Regions from separate parts of the Homo sapiens genome. Here all the other regions are linked to region 4. Evidence: fine-mapped expression QTL. A gene starts in region 4. Each other region holds a variant in brackets. All regions are shown on one strand. Distances are from middle to middle.

Region 1 (8,236 bases), 41 kb before region 4:
TAGCCTCTCCCTCGTGCTAGCCCTGCTTGGGAGCATGAGAAAGCTGCAGATTCTGGGTCCCAAACCCCAGAGCTTGGTAACTCACACACTTTAAAATGAGGGTAAATGACAGGCCGGGCGTGGTGGCTCTCACCTGTAATCCCAGCAATTTGGGAGGCCAAAGCGGGCAGATCACTTAAGGTCAGGAGATCAAGACCAGCCTGGCCAATATGGTGAAACACCATCTCTACTAAAAATACAAAAATTGGCCGGGCGTGGTGGTGCACACCTGTCATCCCAGCTACGCAGGAGGCTGAAGCAGCAGAATCACTTGAACCCAGGAGGTGGAGGTTGTGGTGAGCCGAGATTATGCTACTGCACTCCAGCCTGGGTGACAGAGTGAGACTCCATCTTAAAAATAAATAAATAAATAAATAAATAAAGTGAGTGTTAATGATAAAAAAAAGAAAATAGCTACTTCACCTCAGATACTTGAAAGAACTTTGATTAAGACAAAGAATGAACATATTCAATCTGCTAAAGGCATTTCTTCAATAAGGGTCTAACTATCAGACTGGAGCCACGGAAGGCAGAATATGGAACCCTAATACATTTGCATGCAACTGAAATTTTGTTTTTGCCTACAAAAGGAGATACATGGAAAAAAGGGAATACTTTGGACAGAAAATCAAGACACAAATCAGGCACTGCCAAAAATAAATCACATAAAACTTTTTCTTTGAATTAAGAGAATTTATACAAATTTGACTTCATAAACAAAAGAAACTATACATCAATAATTACCATAAGGCATTATTGCTCCTAAAGTATTTGCCACCAAAAATAAGTCATTGTATAATTCTAATTTTAATAATCTTAATTACGACACAATTTAGGTTTATTTTCTACCTTTATAATTTTGTTGTTGTTGTTTGTTTTTGTTTTTTGGGTTTTTTTTGAGATGCAGTCTCACTCTGTAGCCCAGGCTGGACTGCAGTAGCATGATCTCAGCTCACTGCAACCTCTGCTTCCTGGGTTCAAGCGATCCTCCTGCCTCAGCCTCCCAAGTACCTGGGACTACAGGTGTGTGCCACCACACCCGACTAATTTGTGTTTTTGTTTTTGTTGTTTTTCAGTAGAGACAGGGTTTTACCATGTTGGCCAGCCTGGTCTTGAACTCCTGACCTCAACTGACCCGCCTACCTCGGCCTCCCAAAGTGCTGGAATTACAGGCGTGAGCCACTGCGTCTGGCCTCTACCTTTACAATTAAATAATAAAATCTTCTGGGAGTTCATGATCCCTAGAATTATCATTGATTTAAAATTATTCCATTTTTCAAATACTTTTCTTAGAAATAAAAAGTAAAGTCATTAAAATATGTTAATTTCTGTTACTTATACATTTTTAAATCATAGGTTAAAAGACTCTGATTGGGACATAAGACTGTATATATTTCAGGAATAGTTTTTCCATAGATATAATTAATAACACTTAAAAATAAGAAAAATGTTTTCCATACCAACTATAAGCTTTTAAAAAGTACAGAAGCATATCCTCAAGATGTGAAGGCACTGGGGGATGGAGGACACCTTGTTTCCTCAGCTCAGAGCTTAGCTTTCTCCTTAAAGGTCTCCTTCATCTTTTTGACAACAGAAAGGTCCCCTGCTCCCTTGGGCCAGTTGTCATGATCTGTTAAAGAAGTGGAAAGCCTCCTGTCACTTGCAAATCTCATTTGCCCTCTTCACTCCCACCAAATCCTCTTGTTAATTTCCCTGGTTCACACATTTTCTCAGCACCAAAAAATAAATCCTTAGGGCAAACATTTGAGAAAAGACTTCAATTTGAATCTCAGGTCTGCCACACGTTAGCTTTCCTGAATTTGGGCACATGTCTCTTCCTGAGCCTCAGTTTCCTCCTCTATTAAAGGATACAACAATATCTACCTTTTAAAGTTGTGAGGGTTAAATATGACACCATGTGTGCAGTGCTTCGCATACTGTGGATCGTCAATAAATAGTGTCTCCTTAATAATCACAATTTAAAAATAGTGTCCTTACTTTGTACCAGGCACTGCTACTTGCCTCTCCAGCATCCAGGTCCCCATCTCTTCTTTCCAACAGCTTGTTTCCATTTAACGATCTAGAAGGTGCCAGGGAAGCTTGGCACCAAGGCATGTGGTCTAAGCTAAGTCAGTCAGTGCACTATAACCCCGCCACAGTTATTGGTTGGAAATGGACATTTGCATAAGTTGATCGAATATAGAGTGGATCTCAGAATTTTGTTAGAAATTCTGGAACAAAGTCACTCCTCCAGCCCTCTCTCTGTGCATCTGGGTATGAACACAGAAGTATCAGCCTTACACATAGAAACAGCAGGCAGCCATCCTGCAATGAGGAGAGCCTGCCTTAAGATAGAGCCAACACCATGGAGGCAAAAACAGGAAACAGGGGAAAAACTTGTCCTTGATGAGATCAGTGAGCTACTAAGTCAAGTCTTACCTGTTTTTCAGTTATGTGCCAGCGAATTCCTTTACTGATGAGCCCATTTTGAGTTGTGACTAAAAGCATCCAATTCGACAAATGACTTTATTTTTTTAATTTTTATTTTTTGAGACAGGGTCTTGCTCTGTCAGCCAGGCTGGAGTGCAGTTGTGCAATCATGGCTCACTGCAACCTCGACTTCCCGGGCTCCAGTGATCCTCCCACCTAAGCCTCCCAAGTACAGGCACATGCCACCATGCCAGGCTAATTTTTTAAATGTTTTGTTGAGACGGAGTTTTGCCAGGTTGCCCAGGCTGGTCTTGAATTCCTGGGATCAAGCAATTGGCCCACCTTTGCCTCCCAAAGTGCTGAGATTACAGGTGTGAGCCATGGTGCCCAGCCCCTGACATAGGGATTTAAATGTGCATTATCTAAGGCCAGGCACAGTGGCTCATGCCTGTAATCCCAGCACTTTGGGAGGCCGAGGCAGGCGGATCACCTGAGGTCAGGAGTTCGAGACTAGCCTGGCCAACATAGTGAAACTCCATCTCTACTAAAACTACAAAAAAATTAGTGGGGCATAGTGTCGGGCACCTGTAATCCCAGCTACTCTGGATCCTGAGGCAGGAGAATTGCTTGAACCTGGGAGGCAGAGATTGCAGTGAGCCGAAATCATGTCACTGCACTCCAGCCTGGGCAACAAGAGTGAGACTCTGTCTCAAAAAAAAAGAAAAGAAAAAGTCCCTTATCTAATTTAATCCTCCCAACAGCTCTATGAAATAAATACTGTATGTGTCCCTGCATACAGGAACAAAATAGAGGCTTATAGAAATTAACTTTCTCACAATCATACGGCTAATAAGGGTAGAGCCAAGTTTCCATCTTAGGCATTCTCACCTTGGAGCTGCCAATCTTAAAAGAAAACACCATAGTGAAAGGCTGAATAATCTCATTATTCGGGGGGCAGTATATTCTTAAAAGATAGATGTACCCGCTTTCCTCAAAAACTGAAAAAAATATTTTTAATGATAAAAAGTGTTAGAATTACAAAAGAAAATCATGTCACTGAAGGCCTAAGGAAGAAGCTATTTGAAATTTCTTTCCCTTCTAAAGGTAAAACAGTGCAACCTGCGATAAGAAATAGTGACTGAAGTC[T/C]ACTGTGAGAGAAGTGGAAAGATTCTCTCCACCCTCACTACTTGGAATTTTTTTCAGAAAACAATATGGCAAAACCATGTAGGTATTTCTTCTTTCCAACCAAGACCCTTAAAACTACAGTATCCTATGGACATCACCACATTGATGTTATTAGTAATGAAATACATGTGGGAGGGGAAAATAATAAGTAAAATTAAAGTTCTATACTGTGATATTGTGAAACATATATTTGGTCTTCAACCCCATCTCCCGCATACAACTCCTAATATCCTAGACTCGCCAAAGTGATGTGTTCTTATATGTTAATGATTGACTGATGGCTGGCAGCCCCTAGTTAGCTTCAGTATAGGGGCTGGTCACCAGACAGACCAAGGCATGATTACAGGGTTGGGACCTTCAGCCCATACCCACCCCACAACCTCTGGGGAGGTAAGAGGGGCTGAAGGTTAAGTTGATCACCAGTGGCTGATGGTTTAATCAACCATGCCTATGTAATGAAGCCTCCATAAAAACCCAAAGGACTGGGTTCAAGAGCTTCCAGATAGCTGAACACATGAAGGTTCCTGGCAGGTGGTGGGGCCAAAAAGGACACAGAAGCTACGTGCCCCTTCTCACATGCCTTGCCCTGTGCACCCCTTCGGCTGTATCTCCTGTAATATCCTTTATCATAAACCAGTAAATCGAAGTGTTTTCCTGAGTTGTGTGAGCTGCTCTAGCAAATTACTCCAACCCAAAGAGGGGGTCGTGGGAACCCCAACTTGAAGCTAGTCAGTCAGAAGTTTTAGAGGCCCAGACTTGTGATGGTGTCCAAAGCAGGGGGCATCCTGTGGGACTGAGCCCTCAGCCTGTGGGATCTGATCCTATCTCCAGTGTCAGAACTGAATGAGAGGACGCCCAGCTGGGGTCTGCTGCAGAACTGCTTGCTTGGTTGCTGTGCGGGGGAAGTAACCCCAAACAACTGGTCACAGAAGTCTTCCGTGCTAATGGTTGTTGTGTTGTGAGAGCAGAGGAAAACCAGTTTGAGTTTTTGCTCGCCTCTCACATACACCAATCATTTATTAACGCAAAAAAGGCCTTAAGCCTTGATCAGACTGTCAGCACCTGAAAGAGTACGTAGACCCTGGGTCCTTGATATGAAATTCAGATTCACCTGGGTTACATCAACCATCTATTAATTTGCTAGTAGCCACTTAATTATCTTTAACAACAGAAATTCAATACATTTGCATTTTATACCCTTTACTACATTTTTGGAGTGATTTAGAGTTATTAGCTTAGATAAACCTTTTAACGTCTGTGGATTTGTTTTGTTGTTTATAAAACTAGGATACTGGACTTTGTGATCTTTTAGGACCCTTCAAACCGCAAAGTTCTGTTATCTAGTCATGAGACACACACACACATAAAGGCATTTGCATGTAATATCAATATTTGATTTAAACTTATAAAACTTCTGGTTTTTTTTCTTGAGACAGAGTCTTGGTTTATCTCCCAAGCTGGAGTGCAGTGGCATGATCTTGGCTCACTGCAATCTCCGCCTCCTGGGTTTACGTGATTCTCCTACCTCAGCCTCCCAAGTAGCTGAGACTACAGGTGCCCGCCACCACACCCGACTAACTGTTATATATATACATACGTATATGTGTATATATATATACACATACGTATATGTGTATATATATATACATACGTATATGTGTATATATATATACACATACGTATATATGTATGTGTATATATATATACACATACGTATATATGTATGTATATATATACACATACATATATATGTATGCGTATATATATATATTTTTTTTTGAGATAAGAGTCTCACTCTGTCGCCCAGGCTAGAGTGCAGTGGCACAATCTCGGCTCACTGCAACCTCCGCCTCCCGGGTTCACACCATTCTCCTGCCTCAGCCTCCCAAGTAGCTGGGACTACAGGCACCCGCCACCAAGCCTGGCTAATTTTTTTGTATTTTTAGTAGAGACGGGGTTTCACTGTGTTAACCAGGCTGGTCTCTATCTCCTGACCTCAAGTGATCCACTTGCCTCAGCCTCCCAAAGTGCTGGGATTACAGGCATGAGCCACCATACCCGGCCAAATTTCTGTTTTTGTACATCAAAAATGATGAATACAGAAATTTCATATGCCTTCATTCAATATATATCTCAAAGAGAGCACAAAATAGCACCATAGCACCCCACCCCACCTAGCAGGCCTGATTCTTCTGCTCAGATATGTAAGCCATTTACTGGAGGAACAAAATGGAATTAAATCTTTAAAACTATAGCATGCTCTTGCCTCTTTTCTGTCTCCTCTTTCGAAACATATACTGAGAATATTTTTCAGGGTTCAAATTCCACCAACCTATGCATGCACAAAAAGCTCAGTTCCATAATATAGATAGTTAGATATTTTCTGTGACTAGGAATATTTCATTAAAAAAATCACATCATGAATATAAACATTTTGTACATTTTGATGTTCTATAAGAGAGCACCCTCATCTCTTAAGTAACTACTTATAATAAATTTTAAACCCCTGAACATGACACAGCATAAAGCTGGTGACTGCTCATTCCTCAGCTGCTCACCTGGTACCTCATACGAGTGAGTATAGAGACTCCGGCCCCCATCCACATCCACCGACTGTCCAGTGATGAAGGAAGCTGCAGGAGACAGTAGGAAGCAGACCACAGAGGAGACCTGGAAACAGAAACACACATGTGCATAGGTAAAAGCAAATACTCCCCATTTCTAACCGCCTCACATTCCCCAGTAAAGGCATCTCAAAGCCCATGATTGTAACATGAATCCAACAGTGTGTGCATGTGCACCACAACCTCACAGTACATAGACAACTTCCTTTTCCTACAATTTCCCTTTCTACCTGAGCATCACCGAAATCAGGTAGGTGACTAGGGTAAAGGTGGCAAGGTATGAGGGAGCCTTAGACGATGTCAAGCAAGCTACATGACGTCAAGAAGCCATAAGTGAACTCAGTGCTTCAGCTCTGCTCTTTCCCATTTCAAACAATTCACTTCCTTCCATGCCTTTCATTGTCCTCCACAACCCCATTTTCCATCACTACCTCGTGCCTTTTATGTTTTGGTCCCTGAAATAGTCAATGTGTCTGTTTAGCAATAAACTAGCATTCTGGTTTGTTCAGTCTGCGGTCCTGTCAGGCCAAAAGCCCAGCAACACACATTCAAAGGAGCTCTCTACAAGAGGAACTTCAAAAACTTAGCCAGGCACAGTGGCGGGCACCTGTGGTCCCAGCTCCTTAGGAGGCTGAGGTGGGAGCATTGCGTGGGCCTAAGAGGTTGCAGTGAGCCAAGACTGCACCACTACATTCCAGCTTGGGTGGCAGAGTGAGACTCCATTTCAAAAAAATAAAAATAAAAATAAACCAAAGGCACTTCAGACTCCCACTGTACTCCTTAAAAATTCAAATAGGGAACTGATGAGTTCAGCAACATCTACTCCCAACCCAAACAGAAGGAAGTTATTTCACTGACTTGTAAAGGAGCTCTCACTTGAGGCTGTGGGAAGAAGCAGAGTTTCTCAAAGGGTGATGATCCAAAACACCTGCATTAGAATCACTAGGGATGCTTACTGAGACTTCAGATTCCTAGATCCTTCCAGGATCATTGCAATTGTAAGCTCTGGGGTTGGGGTCCCAGAATCTGCAGTTTAAAAGGCCCCCAGGCAGGGCCAGGACTAGGGTGAGGCAAATAAGGTGTCGAGGGTGCAAGATTTAAGGAGGTATTCACTCTCAGGTTTGCACAAGTGCAAAATCTTCCCTCAGAGGGAGTGGGTCCTTAAATTTTGTGTCCATGCCTTGCTTGCCTCATCCCAGTCCTGGTCCTATATTCACAAGGCTATACCTCCTTGAGACTCTAAGAGCTTGGAGAGCAGCCAAGCCTTCTCTCCATCCTTGTATTCCCAGCAGCTAGTACAGTGCTGCACTATCTAAAACGAGGCCATTAGACATAGTCGCCTACTCAAACACTTTCAGTATGACTGGTCCAAATTGAGACGTGCTGTAAGTATAGAACACACACTGGATTTTGAAGACTGAGTATGGGAAAAATAATGTAAAATATCTCATTAATCCTGGATGCTCCGAGGGATGAAGAAAATCATCTCAATTTTCCATGTTGATTACATGTTGAAATGACGATGTTTTGGATGTATTAGGCTAAGTCAAATATATTATTAAAATTAATTTCACCTCTTTTTACTTTATGTGGCTCCTGGTAAGTTTAAAATTACAAATGTGACTATTAGTATATTTCTACTGGACAGGGCTGGTATAGAATTCACTATTTAAAAGGTCCCACATTACTGTGAAAAGGCAGATTGTACTGAGACATGGTAACAAGCAACAGAGCTGGTTTTAACCCTGTTTGATCCAGTAGTGACAACTCAGCCAATGAACATGTTTGTTAAAGTCAGCGCATCAAAAAGAGACTTGCTCCAATGAGCTCCTTTCTGAAATGCCATCCAGACAACAACCATCCCACCCAAGTAGTCACAACCTCTAACAATCTGTAAACCACACTCCCTCAAAAACACAAAAAACCGGCCAGACGCGGTGGCTCACGCCTGTAATCCC
Region 2 (6,356 bases), 49 kb before region 4:
ATGCTGGTAATAATGAAACTACCTCACAGAGTTTTTGTAAGGCTAAAATGAGATAATGCATGGAAAGGGCTTAGCAGTGTCAGGCATATAGTAATCACCTAATAAATGCTAGCTATTGTTACCCAAAATATTTTGCAATTTTTTTTTTTGAGACGGGGTCTCGCCCTGTCACCCAAGCTGGAGTGTAGTGGCACAATCTCAGCTCACTGCAACCTCCGCCCCCAGGTTCAAGCGATTCTTGTGCCTCAGCCTGCTAAGTAGCTGGGATTATTAGCATGCACCACCACAACTGGCTAATTTTTGTATTTCTTTCTTTCTTTTTTTTTTTTTAGTAGAGAGAAGGTTTCACCATGTTGGCCAGGCTGGTCTTGAACTCTTGACCTCAGGTGATCTGCCTGCCTTGGCCTTCCAAAGTGCTAGGATTACAGATGTTTTGATTCCATAGTTTAATTAATTCTGTGGGCAATTTATTTCGGCATTCCAATTTGAACACACAAGCCCACTATGAGGCCCATTCTCTCTCTCTCTCTCTCTCTCTCTCTCTCACACACACACACACACACACACACACACACACACACACTCTGTCCCTGCTCTCTCTCTCTCATTTGCTTGCTCATCAAAACATCTGCTCTGTATCTCACTGAAATATCTGTCTTCTGTTTCATTCCTCCAAGTAAAATGGTAACAACGCGTTAGAAAGAGTTGCATAGGCCAGACATGGTGGTTCACGCCTATAATCCCAGCAGTTTGGGAGGCTGAGGCAGGCAGATCACCTGAGGTCAGGAGTTCGAGACCAGCCTGGCCAACACGGTGAAACCTCATCTCTACTAAAAATACAAAAATTAGCTGGGCATGGTGGTGGGCGCCTGTAAACCCAGCTACTTGGGAGGCTGAGACAGGAGAATTGCTTCAAGCCAAGAGGCAGAGGTTGCAGTGAGCTGAGATTGTACCACTGCACTGCAGCCTGGGCAACAGAGTGAGAAAGGAAGAAAGGAAGAAAGGAAGAAAGAAAGAAAAGAAAGAAAGAAAAAGAAAGAAAGAGAGAAAGAAAGAAAGAAAGAGAAAGAAAGAAAGAAAGAGAAAGAAAGAGAGAAAGGAAGGAAGGGAAAAGAAAAGAAAGAAGGAAGGAAGGAAAGAGGGAGGGAGGGAAGGAAGGAAGGAAAGAAAGAAGGAAAGAAAAGAAGGAAAGAAGGAAGAAAAGAAAGAAAGGAACAAGGAAGGAAGGAAGAAGAAAAGAAAGAAAGAAAGAAAGAAAGAAAGAAAGAAAGAAAGAAAGAGAAAGAAAGAAAGAAAGAAAGGGAAATGAAAAGAATTGGATAAAAGCATCCATTTACCCCAATTCCCCTAATGTCCATACCAGCCTACCTCCACTTCACAATCAATCCCATTGAAACTAATCCAGATTCAATGTCTCACAGCTAAATCTCGCAGCAAGTCTTACCTACCTGAGGACTTTATCTTCCTCCTCATCTTTTACTATAAACTCTAATTGAACCTCTCTACTTCTCCGTATTTTTGTATTTCTTAAATCATCAAGGATTTTTAAAAGGCTTCAGTAAAACCAGAAATAGGCTGTTCCTCTCTTCTTGGTTCATCTGAGAACAGGAAGCCAGACATCTAACAAAATAGCCTTTGATAGACAGCTTTTCATGCAGAAGGTAAAATTACAGGGTAAGAAATTCTAACTTACATCTACTGTGAATCACTTACAGAAATGACTCTTTTTCTTCAAATCCTTGCTATTTAAGTCCATGATAATCATTTGCATTTGAAAAAGCTGACTCTGTTGAGTCATACTTAGAACTACAAACTCTGACTAAACTTGTAACTCAGTCCAGAGAAATGAAAACAAAAGCCAAATGGTCCAAAATATGCAAGAGAAACAAGGAATATTGTTTTTACTTTGCTGATTTGTTTGAGTTTTTTTCCAAATTTACCAACTGGATATAATTTCCCCACTCAAAGCATATGAACTCAGGTACAACAATGCTATAGAATAATTGGATGACATTGTCCATTTCTTGCAACCCTCCGTTGACCCAGTTGGCTTATGCTAGAGCTGACTAACTGGTAATGCTAACCCAGCATGGGAGGCTGACCAGGGGTACAGGGGTCTTCCTAGGGCCTGCAGAGCAGAATCCAGGTCAGAAGGCAATAGCTTTACACCATCAAACATATATTCTATTTGGGACCTGGTCTTCCACTCTCTCTGCCACACTCATGAACCACCATAAACTACAGGAGGCTCAGTGCAAACTCCCTCCTGTTTCTCCCCAGTAAATTTTATATGTAGTCAGCTCACTCTTCCCCATGTTACCCCCATCCAAATAATTCATTTTGGGCTCAATAATTGCTAGTTTTGATGTAGCATACCTTTCTTGAATACGGTTTAGAATCTTCCTGCTGGTTGGTCTTATTTCAATAGATGCCTTCTTTGCTGAAATGAAATCCTTGTAAACAAGGAGTGCAGAAGAAATACCAAAGCAAAAAACTAAAGCTCAAGTTGAAGCTTTGCAACCAGGTCTTGAATCCTAAGAAGGCACTGCTCAGACGGGCTGGTGTTCCACAACCAACCACAATTATTTGAATACAAATAATTCATTCATAATTCATGAGGCCATTTTCATTTTACACATTTTAAACCTTTACACCTTTTAGTTGGGGAACTTCTAAACTTACCCAAGATTGAGAGACTAGTAGAATTAACCATATAATGTATAATATAGCTGCAGACAGATAATGTATAATGTATCTGCCACCCAGCTTAGACAATTATTACCATGTTGCCAATCTCATTTCACCAACCCCCCTTCCTCCATTTTTTTAAGTTGGAATATTTTAAAGTAAATCCTAGAAATCAACATTTCTTAAATAAAAAATAATAACAACTGCCATGCCATTATCACGTTGAATAAAATGACCAGTAATTTTGCATACAAATTCCTCCGCTGTCTCAATGCCTTCACAAGAGCGAGTAAGTGGTAGAAGCTGGGATTCGAA[C/A]CCAAGCAGTTGGACTCCAGTGCACTCTAAAATCTGTACTTCATGGAAAGAGAGAATCCAACAAGAGCCCTGAAGGAACTGGCAGAAAAGGGCAAAATAAGCAGAGAGAAACAGGATGCCAGGAAGCAGCAAGCAGAAAGGTCAGTAACCTCAGCAAAGGGTGGCCTCAGTCAAGAAGGGGATTTCAAGATATTTCCTATTGCGGAACTGAAGACCTCAAGGAGAACAAGTCTGAAGGCTGCAGACAAGAACAGGTGGTGGGCCTACCTATCTTGGAGTGGGGAGGAGACCTCTGTAAGGCAATGTGAATGCTGATGGCATCAGGACTTGGCAAATCTTAAGACTCTGACTCCCACCAGGCAGAACGCAGGACTGCCTCTCACTAGACTGAGCCACGGCTGCTTGAAAGCTGAAACTAACCCACAGAGGGCCTTGGTTACCATACAAATCAGAAATAGTGTTGTCCAGGATAAGATCCAAAATAGCCTAGAGATTTGGCTGTCTTAAAACATGGGCTCAGTAATCGCTAGTTTTGACGTAGCATACCTTTCCTGAATATGGTTTAGAATCTTCCCGCTGGTTGATCTTATTTCAATAGATGGCTCCTTTGCTGAAATGAAATCCTTGTAAACAAGGAGTGCAGAAGAAATACCAAAGGAAGAAACTAAAGCTCAAGTTGAAGCTTTGCAAGCAGGTCTTGCATCCTAAGAAGCCACTGCCCAGACAGGCTGGTGTTCCAAAACTAACCACAAGGTGGCACTGCTTTGAGCCAAGCCCCAGGTCATGTTAAAAAATGAATGAGATCAATGGTGAAGTTTTACAGTTGCAGAATAGCCAAATGGCAGCCATGAAAAGAAACCCCTTAGACCTCCTGCTACAGGAAACAAAATTGATTGGCTGTGGGTCCCAGCTGCTGCCCCTCTCCATCCATCACTGCCTTCCCCTCGGGCTGCTCCTGGCCTGTGACAAGCACAGCCCTGCTGTCCATCTAGGCTATTCCCTTGGGACAAGGGTGGTTCCCATGGGTGACTTTGCCTTGAGGACTTCCCATCTGCCTGGCCCTCTCTTTCTTGGACTGTACTGCAGTCTGTGATATTTTTTTTTCCTACCCAATTCCCTTCCTCCTCTCTCTCCTTCACAGTTGTCAGAACTTCATTATAGCTCTATTCAGGAGTGGCCCCGTGATGGTGGAGATGGAAAATCTTTCTAATGGGCAGCGTGTGAGAGTGCAACTGGTATCTACAATGGAATGAAAAGTGGCCCGAGATGAGAATATATACAGTGGCCAGGAAACAAGGTCTGGGGTAGAGGATTACGGATGAGCCCAGGGGAGTGGGCGCTCCAGGGGAGTGTCATTTCCGCCTCCCACGTTAATGTCCCCAGAATGCAATCCTCATGGAAGAGGTGTAGAACAACCAAGCAGTCAAGAAAACTCAGCCAGTTGATAGCTGGACTTCATCACCGGCCAGCCCAGAACTGGTGTGACAGGCACAGTGATGGAGGCAGGCTGTAGACGGCCCATTAGCATGGACTCCCTGTTAACCAAGGTCAACGGAGCTGTCACTGCCCCTGCATGTCCAACCTTCCTGCAACACAGATCATTGCTGAGCCCTGAAGTGGCATTGCTCTTTAAGGAGACCAATGGGCCACAGGACGGCCAGTCGACAAGTGGCAGGCTCCAGATGTAATTGCTCCTCTGTTCTGAGAAAATGGATCTGGGTCCTCTAAGTTGTTCCCCTGAGCCAGCGGGCTCTGAAGCTTTGTTGGGAGAGGGTGATGGAGAGACATTGGAGGAGGAAGAGGGTTTTGCTTCCTGACCCGTGCAGTGCAGACTGCTTCACAGGAGTGCTAAGGAGCACCAGCTTCCCAGCACCTCCCTCAGGGGGTTTTGCATCAGAGGCCTCTGGTAGGACACTTCTCTGTACAGTTTTCCCCAGGATGCCAGAGGGCAGGTTTCTAGCAAGTTCCACCAGCAGAGCACCACAGTGACTTCTCTGCCCTCCACTGATTCACAGCCATGCCCTCCCTACTCAATCTGGGTGTCAGCCCCAGGGGTGCTATGGAGGGCTCTTCTTTTTTTTTTTTTTTTCGAGACAGGGTCTTACTCTGTCACCTAGGCTGGAGTGCAATGGTGCAATCTTGGCTCACTGCAATCTCCGCCCTCAGGTTCAAGTGATTCTCCTGCCTTAGCTTCACTAGTAGCTGGGACTACAGACGCCCGCCACCAGGCCGGCTAATTTTTTGTATTTTTCATAGAGACGGGGTTTCACCATGTTGGCCAGGCTGGTCTCAAACTCCTGATCTCAGATGATCTGCCCACCTCAGCCTCCCAAAGTGCCGGGATTCCAGGCATGAGTCACTGCGCCCAGCCAAGGTTCTTCTTTGAGCTCTCAGTCTTAGTCCTAGTGGTGCAGGCTACTCCTGATATCTGCTATTCTCATGTTCAAGTTCTTTTTACTTCCTACTAGCCAGTCCTTCACTACTCCAATCTGCTGTGATAATCACTCTTCACTTTTAACTTGCCCTGTTCAAATTGCTGTGTGGTTTCTGCGTCACTCCTCATAGTGACAGATACCTCTTCCAGGCAAGAGTTTGTCTTTCCTGCCTGCAGGGACTCAGACACCATGACTATCTGGGGGCTATAGAAAGCCTGAACCATAGGCATGGAATCCCATGGGGCATAGCATCCAATCAGGTGACTCACCTCCCAGTGAAGGAGACGAAAGAGTGAGCCCCTGGTTGTGGAACCACTGTGTATCCACACCCCGCACCATCCATAGGCAGCCAGCCTCATAGAGGGCTTGAACAACCAAGACCCAGCTGAAGGGCCAGGATGGAGTGCTTGCTGTCTTCAAAGATGCATGTCCCCAGTAGGTTTGGGACCATGTCTGGGATCCGGTAGATGAAACTGGGAGTGGCCCTGCATTCCATCATTCCCAATGATCTGCTGCAGGATTTAAGGAGAATAGCAGCACTGGAAATCCTGGTGCCAAAGAGGGAGGCTCTTGCCAGGGGACATAAGGTCCCAGTGAGCTACAAACTATGACTGATGCTGGAACTGATCTCTGAACTCCCTTTGTCCAGGCACCAGCAGGAGGAGAGAGAGTTACTTTTACACTGTAGAGAATCCACATGACCCACTGAGCGCCTGCTGGTATTCCTGTGGGCCACTGTAAATGTCAATGCATACTTTCAGCAAGCCTGTCTTAAGAAAGCATCACTTTGCTGCAATCTGAGATGCCTCCTGCCCAATCCTCTCTCCCCTCTCTTTTACAGGGGTCAGCCTTGCAGCATGGTCTGAAGGCCATCGCTGCCTTCTCTGGCTCCCTGCCCTTATCCTTCATGGGCCTGGT
Region 3 (8,236 bases), 57 kb before region 4:
AACAGTGCTTCCCTGTGGCTGCTGTCAGGATTGGGTGAAATAACACAGAAAGCCCTTAGTACAATTTCATGGGAAATGGGAAGCACTGCGTAAACGTTAGCTGCAATTATTGTTAAGTATTCATACTTTAGTCAGATCCGACCCCATCACCTTCCATTGCCAACTGTGACCATCTGAAAGGATTCAACTCAACAAGTATTTATTATCAACTGTGTAAGCATGGCACTGAGCTCAACCTCTTGTGGAATGCAAAGATGAAAAACAAACAGTACTTGGCCGGCTGTGGTGCCTCAGGCCTATACTCCCAACACATTGGGAGGCTGAGGCAGGTGGATCACCTGAGGTCAGGAGTTCAAGGCCAGCCTGGCCAACATGGTGAAACTCCGTCTCTGCTAAAAAGACAAAAATTAGAAAAATTAGCTGGGTGTGGTGGCTGGCTGGCACCTGTAATCCCAACTACTTGGGAGGCTGAGACAGGAGAATCACTTGAACTTGGGAGGTGGAGGTTGCAGTGAGCTGAGATAGTGCCACTGTGTTCCAGCCTGGGTGACAAGAGCAAAACTCTGTCTCAAAAAATAATAATAATAACAGTACTCATCCTCAGAGTACTATCCAGAGCCAAAAATAGAAAATTATGGAACTCAAATGTTCTGTATTCATCTATGCCTCGAGTCACCCATCCTTCAGTTCCTACCATGTGCTCTTCCCTACCTCACCCCCATATTTCCCATGATTAACTATGCTGCAATCTCTAAGTAGATTCTTATAGCTAACTATGTTGTCATCTCTAGTCTCCCATAGTTAATTATACTGCTACGTCTAACAATATTCCCACTTTAATTATATCTCCATCTCTAACTATACTCCTATATTGAACTCTGTTGTCACAGCTAATTCTCCTGCCATAACAAACACTTTCCAGATGCCCAGAACAGTCTCAATTCTCAGCCCCAGAGATGAGATTTGGAATTCAACCTCTTCCTACCTCCGGAAGACAAGCCCCCTACTATTCCAAGTTTTCTGTGTTCTCCAAAGTCTCTCCATATTATACCTAACCAAAATTAAACATAAGCCTAGACCCAGCTATCATCGGTGTGCTTCCTAATTCAATTAAACTCTAAGAAGCAGAAGCAGAGTTTCTAAGAAGCATTTATTAAGCACTTGCTATATGCAAGGTGACTCGAAGTTGCAAAATAGGAGAAAATATGCATCAAAAACTGTAGTAGGAGAAAACCTGAGCATCATTCACATTTGCTATGAAAGGCGACCGGAGGCTTGCCTCAACTTTAAGCCCAGATCCTACCCATCTGAGTGTTAAAGATAACCGAATTTATGCCTTTAAATTCGTGTTTTTAGTTCACCATTCCTTTATATGGTTTCTTTCTCCACAACACTCAAGAGATACATCGACAGGCCAGAACCCTGCAACTCTCCCGGACAAGTTCTACCAAAGTAAAGACAGCAGGTGGACCTCCCCGACAAAGGTTATATACAAACCTTAGACTTCCCCACAAAGGTTATATACAAACCTTCCTATAATCCTCTGTGCTGCCACCTCCTGGCATCCAATTGTAAATTCACTGCAGTCTCTTTGGAGATGGGGCTAAGGATCTCAAATAGGTTCTAAAGCTTTCTTTTACTCAACAGATGGAAAGCTGCTGTAGCCACAATGCCTGTATGAACCTAGAGCTTAAAGGGACATAGTAATATTTAAGTGGGAGATTTAAACTAGCTGTAAACTAAACTCTAAACCTGTTAGGGCACTGCTAAATTGAGCAATAAGTAAATCCTCTCTTTTCTTGGCTACCATGTGCCAAATAGCTTTGATTATTGTATTACTATTTCATTTCATCTTATTAAGCATTGGTATTTGATTTATTAGCCTGAAAACCATGGAAAGTGTATAGGCCACTAGATATATTTCTTAAATAATATAAGGGAAGCAATTTAAATGAAGCATTAAAACTTCTTGTTTTTACATTTTATTTCTCTGAGTGTGTGTGTGTGTTAGAGTCTCACTCTGTTGCCCAGGCTGGAGTGCAGTGGCACAACCTTGTCTCACTGCAACCTCTGCCTCCAGGGTTGAAGCGATTCTCCTGCCCCAGCCTCCTGAGTAGCTGGGATTACAGGCACCCACGACCATGCCCAGTTAATTTTTATACATTTAGTAGAGACACGGTTTCACCATGTTGGCCAGGCTGGTCTCAAACTCCTGACCTGAAGTGATCTGCCCATCTTGGCCTGCCAAAGTGCTGGGATTACAGGTGTGAGCCACCACACCTGGCCAGCCTCTCCAACTGATAAATGCTTAATATTAAATATTTTGCTTGACCAAAGTAGAGGGCCCTTTCAAGTATATGCCATGAGTACCCCTTTGAATCACTTTGTGGAGCTGAAACTGGATGCCTCTAAGCTCCACTCTCCCTTGCCATGCCGAGCCTTTCAGGGTCTTCTCTCCTTGAGCTCTTTTCAATTTAGAAAGGTCTTGTCACTTCAGGTAGGGAATTTAAACTGGGCCACCCCTCCCTATCACTCACATCTTTCCTATGTACCCCATAAGAAGACCAGGTGCTGGCCAGGCACGGTAGCTCAGACTTGTAATCCCAGCACTTTGGGAGACTGAGGCAGGCAGATCACCTGAAGTCAGAAGTTCAAGACCAGCCTGGTCAACATGGCAAAATCCCATCTCAACTAAAAATACAAAAATTAGCCAGGCATAGATCACACCACTGCACTCCAACCTGGGTGACAGAGTGAGACTCAGTCTCAAAAAAAAAAAAGGACGCCCCGTGCCCTCTCTTTTGTCCCTAAGCCAAATGACTTATCAAAGTACTCCTCAGTCCAAGGGAGAGCAGAACCTGTCCAATTGTTGTTAAACAAATACGGTTTCTTGCCTATAGAAAATATATTGGCTGGGTGTGGTGGCTCATGCCTATAATCCCAGCATTTTGGGAGGCCGAGGCGGGTGGATCACCTGAGGTTAGGAGTTCAAGACCAGGTTGGCCAACATGGTGAAACCCCATCTCTACTAAAAATTCAAAAGAAAAAAAAATCAGCTGGGCATGGTGGCTCACCCCTGTAATCCCAACTACTTGGGAGGCCGAGGCAGAAGAATTGCTTGAACCAGGGAGGCAGAAGTTGCAGTAAGCCGAGATCACGCCATTGCACTCCAGCCTGGGCGACGGAGCAAGACTCTGTCTCAAAAAAAAAAAAGGAAGGGAAAGGAAGGGAAAGGAAAAAAAAAAGGAACGGAAAGGAAGGGAAAGGAAGGGAAAGGAAAGGAAAGGAAAGGAAAAAGGAAAAGGAAAAGGAAAGGAAAAGGAAAGGAAAGGAAGAAAGAAAGAAAATGTATTATAAAGATGAACTGGCATAACAGTTTGTATCCCTTTCATGATTCCTGGCACTGTGACATCCCTGAAAAGCATGAGAATGCATGAAAATGCACATCTCATTTTAATGTTTATGTTTTCTCTATGGCAACATAGGAGAATGGTTTTGTAGTAATGCAAAACTCATTAATAAAGGCAAAATCCTTAGCTGCCACCCCACTGATACCCAGAAGAGGTTGATTTAAAGATCTCGACAGGACAAAAATTGTAAAACTAAGAAAGAAGACCTCTACTACCCACAGACAGCCCAGTAGCTCAAAAGCAAAGCTTCTCAACTTAGAGGAGGTGCAGACCTTCCTTCCTTCTAACTGGCAGAAAATCTGGTACTGCCAATTAGCTTCCCAGGAAAGCTAACTCTGAGATGGAATTTAGCATACAGGAGATTTATTATGAGTGTGCATAGAACCAACACCTGTGGAAAAGAAGGGCACAAAGGAACTGATTGGGCCTCAGTCAACCCTATGGGGAGTTCTAAAGACAGAATGAAAATTCAGAGCTGCTCTGAGTCAGTCAGTAAGCGAGAACTGGCCCTTTCTGTCCCCTCCATGACAATCAGTCTTTGGATGAGGCCTACCTGGGAAAGGAACATGGCCTTAGCCGAGGCAGCCCTCTTCAGCAGAGGCTGTCCCAGAAATGGGCTGACAGCTAGGGCCGTGTCGGGCAACACTTCCAGCAGCTCCTTCCTTCCGGAGGGAGGATCTAGAGCCCGTGAATCTCAGCAGCCACTGCTCGGCAATCCCTGCACCGAAATCCATCCGTGTGGGCAGTCACACAAGCTCAGGATTTCCTTCCTCTCAAAATGCCAGGAATTCTTTTATCAGATTTCTTTAACATAAGATGAAGTCCTCCAGGCATGAACACTTAAGCCTTCAGCCCTTTGGAGGGAACATTCTAGAAATAAGGTTCAGGAAATTGTCCACAAGTAGAAGCAGTCTCACCCACATAAACATGATGAAAACTCTTCCCTAGAAGTACTGACATATGCTACAATGTGGATGACCCTCAAAAACATTATGATAAGTGAAAAAAGCCAGACACAAAAGGTCACACATTATATGATTCAATATACATTAAATATCCATAGAGAGACATAACTCCAGCTGATGGCTGCTGGGGACAGGGGTGGGGGACAGAATATGAAGAACAACTGCTTAATGTATATAAAGTTTCTTTCTGGGATGATGAAAACGTTTTGAAACTGGACAAAGATGATGATTACACAACATTGTGAATGTGCTGAATGCCACTGGATCATTCATTTTAAAATGGTTACTTCCATTGTGTTTATTTATTTATTTATTTATTTATTTTTGGAGACAGTGTCTCACTCTGTTGCCCAGGCTGGAGTGCAGTGGCACCATCTAGGCTCATTGCAACCTTCCCAGGGTCCAGCGATCCTCCCGTCTCAGCTTCCTGAGTAGCTGTGACTACAGGCATGCGCCACCATGCCCAGCTAATTTTTTTATTTTTTGTAGACATGGGGTTTCACCATGTTGCCCAGGCTGGTCTTGAACTCCTGAGCTCCAGCAATCCACCCGCCTCTGCCTCACAAAGTGCTGGGATTACAGGCTTGAGCCACCACAACTGGCTAAACTGGTTAATTTTATATTATGTCAATTTCACCTCAATTAAATAAAATGGGGTAAAACATACACACACACACACACTCAAACACAAAAAATCTCTTCCCTGGGAACAGCCCACTTTATGAAAATTAATGCTCTACTGTAAGAACCTTAATTTTTTAATAACTAGGAATTACTAAAATGTTACTCTGTCTTCAGAGTAAACTTACATCACATAAGGCAAATCAGGTAAAACTATCTGTACTTAAAATCAAGCATCCTATCCATGTAGTAGGCTCTGGATAGCCAAATTATGTAAATCTGTACTTTAAACATGAGAGATAACTTCTGTCTACATGTAAAGAATATTTTCCTTCAAAAGAAGTTTGAAGTGTTATGATCATATACTCTTTAAAGTTTCTTGAAATAAAAATGATGTTTAGAGATTTCAGGGTCTCCAAAATAATTATCCGTTTGCAAAGACACCCTCCAAACAATTCAAAGATACTTGATGAAATCAATCATCTCTTATTGGTAAAATGTGAACGGTGGTATAGGAATATTTTGCTGTAATACATTTGGTGTTTGGTGACAGAAAGACAAAACAATGGTGTGAATATACTTGTTGGAAGCTAAAAAATATGTGAATTGAACTATCTTTAAACAGATAATGCTGTGCCACCACCATTTCACCACCATTACCCAGTAGAGTTCGAAGCTCTCTAAGAGAAATTTAACTTTGAAGTAAGAATAATAGTCTAAAAGCCACAAGGTACCCAGGTGCAGTGGCTCACCCCTATAATCCCAGCACTTTGGGAAGCCAAGGTGGGAAGATCATTCGAGGCCAGGAGTTCGAGACCAGCCTGGCCAACATGGTGAAACCCCCATCTCTACTAAAAATACAAAAATTAGCTGGGCATGGTGGCACATGCCTGTAATCCCAGCTACTTGGGAGGTTGAGGCATGAGAGTCACTTGAACCTAGGAAGCAGAGGTTGCAGTGAGCCAAGATCACACCACTGCATTCCAGCCTCGGTGACAGAACAAGAATCTGTCTCAAAAAAGAAAAAGGCATGAGGTAGTTAAGA[C/T]ACTAGGACCTTGAAAGAAGGAAAGAAACAGAAAGTGTCAGTTTAAAATTTGCCTAATATCAAAAATGTCCATTCTGAACAAGAGTCAAGCCAACTCTCCCTTCCCCCACCCTCTGTGATAAAAAGTCATTCACAAGTTGCATTGTTTTTCTGAAAGCATTCTAAATCTGAAAATGTCGAATAAATTTTCAAAGACACTAAATTTCAAAATACACTTAAAGTCAATTATTTAATAAAACTTGAAATTTTAATGTTTAATTCTCAACATTATAGTTTTCTGATTTTTCTATGTAAATACAGTTACTTCACAAGGAAAATTTTAGAATTTGAGGCAGGGCATTTTGACTTCCATACAAGAGTTTGGACTTCTACACTAAAACCAAATAATGCTTCATGTAAATATAATGTAAAACATAGGCTTTAAGTGGAAATAAATGACATGTATAGTGTGGTATGGTTGCAAACCATTGAAAGAGATGTCTTTCACGAACTTGCTCAAAATACCCAGATAGGCCGGGCACGGTGGCTCACGCCTGTAATCCCAGCACTTTGGGAGGCTGAGGCAGATGGATCACGAGGTCAGGAGATCGAGATCACGAGGTCAGGAGATCCTGGCTAACACGGTGAAAGCCCGTCACTACTAAAAATACAAAAAATTAGCTGGGCGTGGTGGCGGGCACCTGTAGTCCCAGCTACTCGGGAGGCGGAGGCAGGAGAATGTCATGAACCCGGGAGGCGGAGCTTGCAGTGAGCCGAGATCGCGCCACTGCACTCCAGCCTGGGCAACACAGCAAGACTCCATCTCAAAAAAAAAAAAAAAAAAAAACCCAGATAATCTGAAAATATATACAGATCAATGGAAAAAATTCCATTTGATATTTCTAGGCAGGATTTTAATGTGTGATAGCTGACATAGATTTCCAGTAATTGTGTATTTATTTAATTCCATTTTTTCTCACTGTACTCTAGATATTTTCTCAAACATACTTGGATTTTGGGAATTCGAATTTGTATAGTGTTAAGGTAATGCATATTTGAATTTATCTTGCTGTTTGAGAAATTTGAATTCTACCAATTACAGACAATTCTGTAATTGTCTATAACAACAGTAGGAATTGCACACTTAAAATCATTAAAATGGCAAAATTTATGTTATATATATTAGTTACACCACAATAAAGAAAAAGAACATAAAAAGGAAGAAAAAAATAAGGCTTTTTCTCTGAGAGAGAAAAAGAGAGACACAGTTTTGGTTTTCCCCCCATTGGAATATGGAGTTAAGTGCAGACCACTCAAGATACACAAATTTCTGACCAGAGCACTTACAAGTAGCAATTCCAAAATAAATACCAGTACAATAAAAAAGATGTTATATTCATCTTTATTTATTTATTTAAAAGGAAATAAATAATTTCCTGTAAAATAAAAGGATGAAAGCAGCTTGATGGCAGCAGATGTAAAGAAGGATTGAGGCTGGCCAGGCGTGGTGGCTCACGCCTGTAATCCCAGCACTTTGGGAGGCTGAGGCAGGCAGATCACGAGGTCAAGAGATTGAGACCATCGTCGCCAACATGGTGAAACCCTGTCTCTATTAAAAATACAAAAATTAGCTGGGCGTGGTGGCGCGCTTCTGTAGTCCCAGCTACTCAGGAGGCTGAGGCAGGCGAATTGCTTGAACCTGGGAGGTAGAGGTTGCAGTGAGCTGAGATCACGCCACTGCACTCCGCCTGGCGAGAGAGTGAGACTCCATCTCAAAAGAAGGATTGAGGCTGCTGAGTTAGGACGACAAAGGCAAAATGATAAACACAAGGCAGAAGGTGCTTATGCACCTCCCCCTGCCTCCAGGCTGGCCCTTGGGCTTGAAGAACTAGAAACACAAACTTGTTATCCCTCTTTCCAGAGTTCTCAAAATACAAGGATGCTAAGTCATGCTCACAAACTCGCCAGAAGCTGAAATACACAGCCTAGACTAACACAAAACTCCCAGCATGGCTGAAAATGCCTAGGGCCAGAATAGTCCAGTATTTCCCTTCAGGCAAAGTTGCACAGCAAATCAAAGTTTTAGATTTGTTTTTGACAGGGATTCAGAGGAAAAGGAGATGGTTTAATGAATTTAGCTCTGAGAGTCTCATGCATCATTTTACAAGAGAGGAATGTGCATGCCAAGCAAACCAAATGTTTGTAGCCTATGGCTG
Region 4 (8,236 bases):
CTCTAGTAAAAATATGACAATGTCGTGGAAATAGCCATTGATTCTGGCATAAAAAAATAAAGAGGAAAAAGTAATTATAAAAATGATTTTTATGGCCAGGCCCGGTGGCTCACAGCACTTTGGGAGGTCAAGGGGGATGGATCATAAGGTCAGGAGTTCAAGACCAGCCTGGCCAACGTGGTAAAACCCCGTCTCTATTAAAAATACTGCTCAGGAGGCTGAGGCAGAGAATTGCTTGAACCTGGGAGGTGGAGGTTGCAGTGAGCCGAGATTGCGCCACTGTACTCCAGCCTGGGCGACAGAGCGAAACTCCATCTCAAAAAAAAAAAAAAAGAAAAAGATTTTTAATATTCTTTCACTGAAGGAAATCCATTTCCAATACAACAAAATAATTGTGTATATATATTTTTAAGTATATGATGTCTTTTTCTCAAAAGACACGCCACCACTTTCATCAGAATCTCAGACAGATTCATGTCTTCCAAAAGATTACAAGACCAATGTCCTAATGTTTTAGTTTGTGGTAAGAAAAATATAGTCTATCACCTTATTCCAGGGGTGTAGTTTTTGGCCAATGCATATTTATGCAACAGGATGAAAGTTCAAATAGCACACTTATGCAACAGGATGAAAGTTCAAATAGCACACTTATGCAACAGGATGAAAGTTCAAATACATAAAAATCTATTAAAAATCCTTCAAAGTGGACTAGGGTCCTACGAATCTGCTGAGAAGCCTAGTATCTGACCTATGCATGAATTGATAACTGATTCTGATTTTCTTACAGATATTCCTGAAAGAGGATAGAGCTTGGTGTTGAGAATAAACTGGGCAGTAATGGTGATGAGGTTACATCATGGCCTTACTAGGAAATGTTTTTGCTTTTTTTTTTTTTTTTAACTAAAAACATAGATTTTTTTTTTTTAGTTCATACTGTGCCAGATGTTGGAAACACAGTCGTAACCAAAGATAATTTAGATGTTCATTAAAAAATATTTAAAAGACGAAGACAATTTTAATTACTCATAATTAACATTATTTTCAGAAAAATGGCTAAAAATCTTATAAACTTCCTTCCAGTCCATTTTTGCATATGTAATACTTTTTTTTTTTTTTGATACTGAGTCTTGCTCTGTCGCCCAGGCTGGAGTGCAGCGGCACGATCTTGGCTCACTGAAACCTCTGCCTCCCGGGTTCACGCCATTCTCCTGCCTCAGCCTCCTGAGTAGCTGGGATTACAGGCACACGCCACCATGCCTGGCTAATTTTTGTATTCTTAGTAGAGACGAGGTTTCACCATGTTTTCCCAGGCTAGTCTCGAACTCTTGACCTTGTGCTCTGCCCGCCTCGGCCTCCCAAAGTGCTGGGATTACAGGCATGAGCCACCGTGCCCGGCCCTGCATGTATATATTTTATTAAAAGTAAAATTGGGCCGGGCACGGTGGCTTACGCCTGTAATCCCAGTACTTTGGGAGGCCGAGGCGGGCGGATCACCTGAGGTCGGGAGTTGGAGACCAGCCTGACCAACATATAGAAACCCCATCTCTACTAAAAATACAAAATTAGCCTAGCAAGGTAGTGCGTGCCTGTAATCCCAACTACTCGGGAGGCTGAGGCAGGAGAATCGCTTGAACCCAGGAGGCGGAGGTTGCAGTGAGCCAAGATGGCGCCACTGCACTCCAGCCTGGGCAACAAGAGCGAAACTCCATCTCAAAAAAAAAAAAAAAGTAAAATTGGAATGCTATTAGGTTTAGAATTCTACTTTTCCCAATAATATGGTATGCATTTCTCCAAGTAAGTCTTCAATAGCAAGATATTTATTTATTTATTGAGATGGAATCTCGCTCTGTTGCCCAGGCTGGAGTGCAGTGGCTTGACGTCAGCTCATTGCAACCTCTGCCTCCCAGGTTCAAGCGATTCTTGCGCCTCAACCTCCCAAGTAGCTGGGACTACAGGTGTACGCCACCATGCCTGGTTTGTATTTTTAGTAGAAATGGAGTTTCACCATGTTGGCCAGGCTGGTCTCAAACTCCTGACCTCAGGTTATCTGCCCGCCTCGGCCTCTCAAAGTGCTGGAATTACAGGCGTGAGCCACTGCGCCAGGACCAATAGCAAGATATTTAAACGGAAGCATTATATTTCATTGTTATTGATTTAACTATTTTCCTTATATTGGATTTTTAGGTAATTTCCATTTTTTCACTACTCAAGACTACATCCTTGCATGAAAATCTTTGCTTGACTCCGTTTCCTTAAATTCCTGAAAAAGGAATTACTGTCATAGAGCATAAACATTGTGAAGGTTTTTGGATCTTTTTTTCCAAATTGCCTTCCAGAAAGTTTGTAATAATTTACATTCCTGCCTTCTCATTCCTGCATCAACACTTTAATTTTTCCCAACATTTCAAAATTTTGTTAGAAAAGTTAAATCTTACTGTTTCATATTTTATTACCAATAAAGTTGATTATTTTTTCATATGTTTCTTGCCTGTCTGTAGTTCTTCTTTTGGAACGCTTAGTCCATACCATTAGTCTAATTTTTCTATCAGTGTGTTGGATTTTTTCTTTATTTGTAAGAGCTCTTTATGTATAAGGCTGTTGGCCGAATCTAGTGGCTCAGCCTGTAATCCCAAAACTTTAGGACTCAGAGGCAAGGCAGGAGGATCCCTTGAACCCAGGTGTTCGAGACCAGCGTAGGCAACAGAGTGAGACCCTATCTCAAAACCAACAAACAATTTATCTTATGTTGCAAATATTTTTCTTCATATGCCTTTAAACTTTATATATTTTTTTAATTCAATGAGGATTTACACTTTCATACAGGTAGATTGATTTATGTTCTCCTTTGTGGTTTATTCCCTCACTTATGTGTTTACAAAGGCCTTCCTTCACCCAAGTTAAGGTAAATATTCAGCATATTTCCTTGCTGTGGTTAAGAGATGTGAGAAGATACTATGAGAGACTCACTATGTTCACAACTTTTTCCAGTTAAATGAAGTCTTCCCACGTTTCCTAATCACTCACATTAAGCATATAGAATGGATTAATTTTAAATCTGAATATAAAACTAATTGCACAGCATGTTTCACTGCTCTTCTTACTGCCTACCTGGGGCACAGTCTCTTTGGCCTGAGTGGTCTCTTCAGTTTTTAACGAGTGGCTCCACAATTCCTTAGGAAGAGCTGCTCTCTTCTGTCTCCCTGGTGGTCGTAATTTCGCCCACACCTGCCCCGTCTTTGCTCTGCAGCTCCACACTCCCTCAGCCCCGCCGAGAGCTCCTGGCTCCCGTCTCCAGGTTACCCCAGGTCACCACAGCCACCTCTCTGCACCAGCGGCCCGCTCACGTACCCAGCTCCAGGAGCTCCTTCACGATGGCTTTTCCGATGCCCGTGGCCCCGCCGGTGACGATGGCCACTTGGCCCTGCAGCAAACCAGGCGCCAGGTAGCTCCTGCCCTTAGCCCAGGAGGCCATCCCTGCAGCGGGGTGCCAGAGCAGCTGAGCGCAGGCCCTTCTGGGTCTCAGGGACATTCGAGGCGGGCGGGCGGACAGGGCGGTGCTCGAGCCCACGTGACCACCAGAACCCCGCACCCTCCCCGGCCCGGCCCCGCCCCGCCCGCCGGCCGCGGCAAAGCCGCATCCTCCCGGAGCAGAACCGCTCCCCGCCGGCTGTCCGCAACCTCCGCCAGCGTCGGTCCCTGGGCAGGTGTGGGTGAGACTGCTCGTTCGTTTCTTTAAATTTCGATGCCATTGGGGAGGGTGGAAGGGAAATGCAAAAAAAAAAAAAGAAGAAGAAAGAAACAAGCAGGGTGTGCTCTATTTCAAAAATTCAATCCTCAGGGCTGAAGCTCTCACGATTAATTAAAATTAAATCTCCAGTGCAGCTGGAAAAAGAAAGGCTGCTGCTCGGCGCCCTCGCTGCGCCCGCCTGCCGGGGTCGGACGTCGGCGATGCTGTGGCTCCAGGTGCTGTGTGCCGCTGGCTGGGAAGGGGAGAAAGGGCAGGCTTAGCTGAGGGGGAGAAATGCGGCTTTCAGATCCTTTCATCCTTCGGGAGGGAGCCCGGGAAAGAGAGTGAAGGGGAAGAGGAGATGCGGTTGCAGTTTTCCACAGAACCAAGAGAATAAACGATTTGAAAAAATAAACTCAGGCCCACCTCCGTCTCACCTCCCACTCCCCACCCAAGAATCAAGGGGAAAGATCATCTTTACCAGGTTTGAGACCTGATCCATTTCAGCTGAGCTGCATAGCGAGTCCAGAAGAGGATCTTTCCTTGAAGGGTGCACGCTTCCTGCAAGATGCATCTGTAGGTGTTTGAGATCATGTCCTGTAGTTCATTCCTTGTGCAGGAGGGTGAGCCCGCTGAGGATGGGGAAAATTTCTCGTCTGTGTTATGGTGCCCAGTAACAGTGATTTATTATTCAGATCTGCTCCTTATTTTTCATCTTGCTTCCCGCTCTGAACCCACCAGAGTGAGATTACACCTGGACTGGCCTACTGAGACTTCACCCTAAGAACTTGGTCGAATGTGCCAGTTGCTGTGGTCTTAACAATCCAGATGGGATGCTATTTCTAAGGCTGTTGTCAGAGTGTTGCATTTTCCCCGGACAGGTATTAAAATAATATAAAGGCAAATAAATGCCATCATCCTTTTGTTGGACCTACCACCTAGGATTCACAAAGCCAATTGGAAATGGGTCTGGTTGACAGAGGAATCAGACCATCACTTCCTCCACCAGGTCCCACCCACCAGCGAGGCTGCAGTTCTTGTTGGACAGCTACACTTCCCTGTTGCTCCATCCTCTTGTCCTTCTCTGATCTCTTTTTAGAATCACTTCTCCCTCTATCTTTGTTGCTGACAGATTCAAATCTACACTCGTTAAAGAAAGGAATAAATCTCCTGGTTACCATTTGCTAGATAGTTTATCCAGGAATCACTTAACTCTACTACTTAAGTCAATTCTGTAGTTAGGACCAAATTTTTAAAATTACAACGCCATCACCTCCTTTAAAACAAAGTAAATTCAAACAGGAAAGCTCAAAGTGTTGTTGCAGAAACATATAACTCCTCTTGGTTTGATCCCAATGACAAGGTGTTTTTTTTTAAGGAAAAGAAATATTGATTCAGTTCTGAGGGGTATCTTATTCAAGAGAAGTCCAGACTTTCTTTCTTGTGGGTGGGGACACTTTAAATTCTTTTAAATGATAACTTTATTGAAGATATAACTTAACATGATTTATGCCCTGGTCTGGACCTATAGATTCTTAGAGGTGTGCCAGGGTGGGTCAGTGGGAAGCTGGCTGTGCTGCAGCTTCCGTGTGGCTGCTGAGCGGACTGAGAGTGGGATTCTGATGTCTTCCAGTGAAACAGGGACTGGGGCCTGCAAACCGGTTATGCCTACTGAGGATGACAAGGTGCCATTCCTCAGCTGCAAGGAAGTTGCAGGATGAACAGTCAGAAGGCGATTTTTCATGATCCAGGCAGAACCTGCAATTAAGAGAGCTTTGGGGTCTCTTCAAGCGATCTTTTGTTTAAAATTAGGAGGCATGATCTCTTTGCCTCTGCCTCTGACCTCTGTCAGGGTTTGAAAGTCCACTAATCCGCTAAGTTCCAGGCCAAAAGGCCTGGAAGCAGAGCAATAGATCTGCTGCTTGGAAGCTCTTTGTTTTGAAATTTTAGTTCTGCCTCTGGTTGAGGCATCTCTTCCGAAGGCAACCACGCCATGCTGCACTGACCACTCCTTTGGTTGAATCAAATGCTGCTCTTCCCTGTGCTCTGCGTCACTGCCCTCTTTGTCCTGGGGAAAAAGGCATTCCTGTGGCCAAGGTCCTCCCACACCCCCGAACCTCTCCCCACAGCTCTGTCATACCCCATTAGCAATGACTGCCTTCAGCTTCCCACCCCTCCCCCACCCCATCTGCCTGGTAACTTTATTTTCTCCCCTCTGCAAAGCAGCTGCTAGCTCAGACTGACAGGGGCTTGTGGGATTCTCGACATTTAGACTCCCAGAATCTCAGTGCTGAGAGAATGTCAGTGAAGCATCTGGTCCTGCCCCTACCTTGAAGCAAAACTACCTAGCAATTGTGCCATAACAAGGCATATAAAGGAGCTTATTGATGTCTTTTTATTAAACTTCTCCTTAGTCTCAGGCTTTCACAAAAAATAAGCTACTCCTGAGTTGCTACCACTTCACCCAGTCACTTAAAAAGATTTATCGAGCATCTATTTGTTGGCCTACTTCTATGGTACCACTTCATAGGGCTTGAAGTCTAGTAGAAGAGCTATGCAATAAATAAGTAAAAGAAAAATAAATAATGACAAATGTTGGTAAGCCTTACACAGGAAACAAGCTGTTGTGATAAAGAATAATGAGAGGCAGAGCAGGGAGTCAAGTTTTTAGTTCGGGTGTCAAGAAGGGCTCAGAGGAGGAAACATTTGAACAAGGACTCAAAAAAACAAAAACGGGCACAGGAAGAGGCGGGGTGGAGCAGCAGAGCAGCAAGATAGACAGCAGTTAAGAAGACCTCAAGCATTTGGAAGCATTTGGTGCTCTTGAGGAAGAAATACACAGCCAGTGTGATTGGAGCATAGTACCCCTACTATGGTGGTACAGATGGGGTGGCAGGATGGGGAGGTCCTTAGGCCACATGGACTTCCACATGTATAACAGTAGGAAGTTACAGGAGGATTTTAAGCAGAAAACAGCCTGATTTTCTTTTTTATTTTTATTTATTTATTTGACATGGAGTCTGGCTCTGTATCCCAGGCTGGAGTGCAGTGGCAGCGATCTCGGCTCACTGCAGCCTCTGCCTCCCAGGTTCAAACAATTCTCCTGCCTCAGCCTTCCGAGAAGCTGAGACGACAGGTGCGCGCTGCCACGCCTGACCATCTGATTTTCTTTATGTTTTAAAAAGATGTTTCTGGCTGGGTGGCTCATGCCTGGAATCCCAGCACTTTGGGAGGTGAAACCCCATCTCTACTAAAAATACAAAAATTAGCCGGGTGTGGTGGCACACGCCTGTAATCTCATCTACTCGGTAGGAGAATCAGGTGGGGGAGGTGGGGGTTGCAGGAAGCTGAGATTGTGCCACTGCAGTCCAGCCTGGGTGACAGAGTGAGACTCTGTCTCAAAAAATTAAAAAAATTAAGTAAAAGATGTTGCTTACTGCTGAGTGAGGAATTGATTGGAAGGCAGCAAGAGTGGAAGCTGGAAGATAGGAGCATTTTTTTTAGAACCACAGTTAAGAGACAGTGGCCTCCTAGACCAGAGGGGAAGCAGTGGAGATGGGAAAGTTGGGTGGATGAATTTAAGAATTATCTGGGCCGGGAGCAGTGGCTCACGCCTGTAATCCCAGCACTTTGGGAGGCCAAGGCGGGCGGATCACCTGAGGTTGGGAGTTCGAGACCAGCCTGACCAACATGGAGAAACCCCTTCTCTACTAAAAAATACAAAATTAACTGGGCATGGTTGTGCATGCCTGTAATCCCAGCTTCTCAGAAGGCTGAGGCAGGAGAATCGCTTAAACCCAGGAGGCAGAAGTTGTGGTGAGCTGAGATCACGCCATTGCACTCCAGCCAAGGCAACAAGAGTGAAACTCCATCTCAAAAAAAAAAAACAAAAACAAAAAAAGAATTATCTGGATAATTTTTTTCAAGAGTGGCTTAAAAGCAGTTATTCTAAGCACGAGTTCCAGAGTATGAGCATGTTCTTAAAAACCTGTTTTCCCTCCTACAATGACCAAGAGTACAGAGCTAATGGTTGATTGAAGCTAACACTCTGTAATATCACATTTGTAAGAATCTTTTTTTTTTTCTGAGGCAGAGTCTCACTCTGTTGCCCCGGCTGGAGTGCGGTGGTGTGATCTTGGCTCACTGCAACCTCTGCCTCCCGGGTTCAAGCGATTCTCCTACCTCAGCCTCCGGAGTAGCTGAGATTACAGGTGTGTGCCACCATGCCTGGCTAATTTTTGTATTTTTAGTAGAGGGGGTTTCACCATGTTGGCCAAGTTGGTCTCAAACTCCTGATCTCAAGTGATCCACCTGCCTCGGCCTCCCTAAGTGCTGGAATTACAGGCATGAGCCACCGTGACCAGCCTGTTAATAATCTTTAGACTGGAAGTGGAAGTGGAAGATGGGCACAGCTTAACTGCCAGAGAAAAGAACAAAGTCCTCTCTCTTCTCTCAAGTCTATTGATTAAAGCCTTGGAAATTGGGTAAAATTTTCTTTTAACCTCTCTC

Evidence for each region.
Region 1: its variant is fine-mapped to the expression of PECR in whole blood (INTERVAL, PIP above 0.99). The same link has a PIP of 0.9 or more in blood mononuclear cells.
Region 2: its variant is fine-mapped to the expression of PECR in whole blood (TOPMed, PIP above 0.99).
Region 3: its variant is fine-mapped to the expression of PECR in whole blood (INTERVAL, PIP 0.93).

Annotation. Positions count from the first base shown.
Region 1 is chr2:216,037,692-216,045,927 of GRCh38, forward strand. PECR (peroxisomal trans-2-enoyl-CoA reductase) reads right to left here. Exons shown (of 8, transcript NM_018441.6): 7 at 6,213-6,324; 8 at 697-1,669. The coding sequence ends at 1,584. Among named protein-coding and RNA genes, the nearest start is that of MREG, 28 kb to the left of the region's middle. The variant T/C (reference allele first, on the strand shown) is at 3,616.
Region 2 is chr2:216,030,413-216,036,768 of GRCh38, forward strand. It overlaps a transcript of MREG not described here and a transcript of PECR not described here. Among named protein-coding and RNA genes, the nearest start is that of MREG, 20 kb to the left of the region's middle. RefSeq lists an enhancer at 1,843-2,072. The variant C/A (reference allele first, on the strand shown) is at 3,004.
Region 3 is chr2:216,021,682-216,029,917 of GRCh38, forward strand. It overlaps a transcript of MREG not described here and a transcript of PECR not described here. Among named protein-coding and RNA genes, the nearest start is that of MREG, 12 kb to the left of the region's middle. The variant C/T (reference allele first, on the strand shown) is at 6,042.
Region 4 is chr2:216,078,270-216,086,505 of GRCh38, forward strand. It overlaps PECR (peroxisomal trans-2-enoyl-CoA reductase), which reads right to left and starts at 3,540. Exons shown (of 8, transcript NM_018441.6): 1 at 3,349-3,540. The coding sequence starts at 3,472. It overlaps TMEM169 (transmembrane protein 169), which reads left to right and starts at 3,650. Exons shown (of 3, transcript NM_001142311.2): 1 at 3,650-3,710. RefSeq lists enhancers at 3,142-3,221, 3,252-3,301, 6,426-6,495 and a silencer at 3,492-3,751.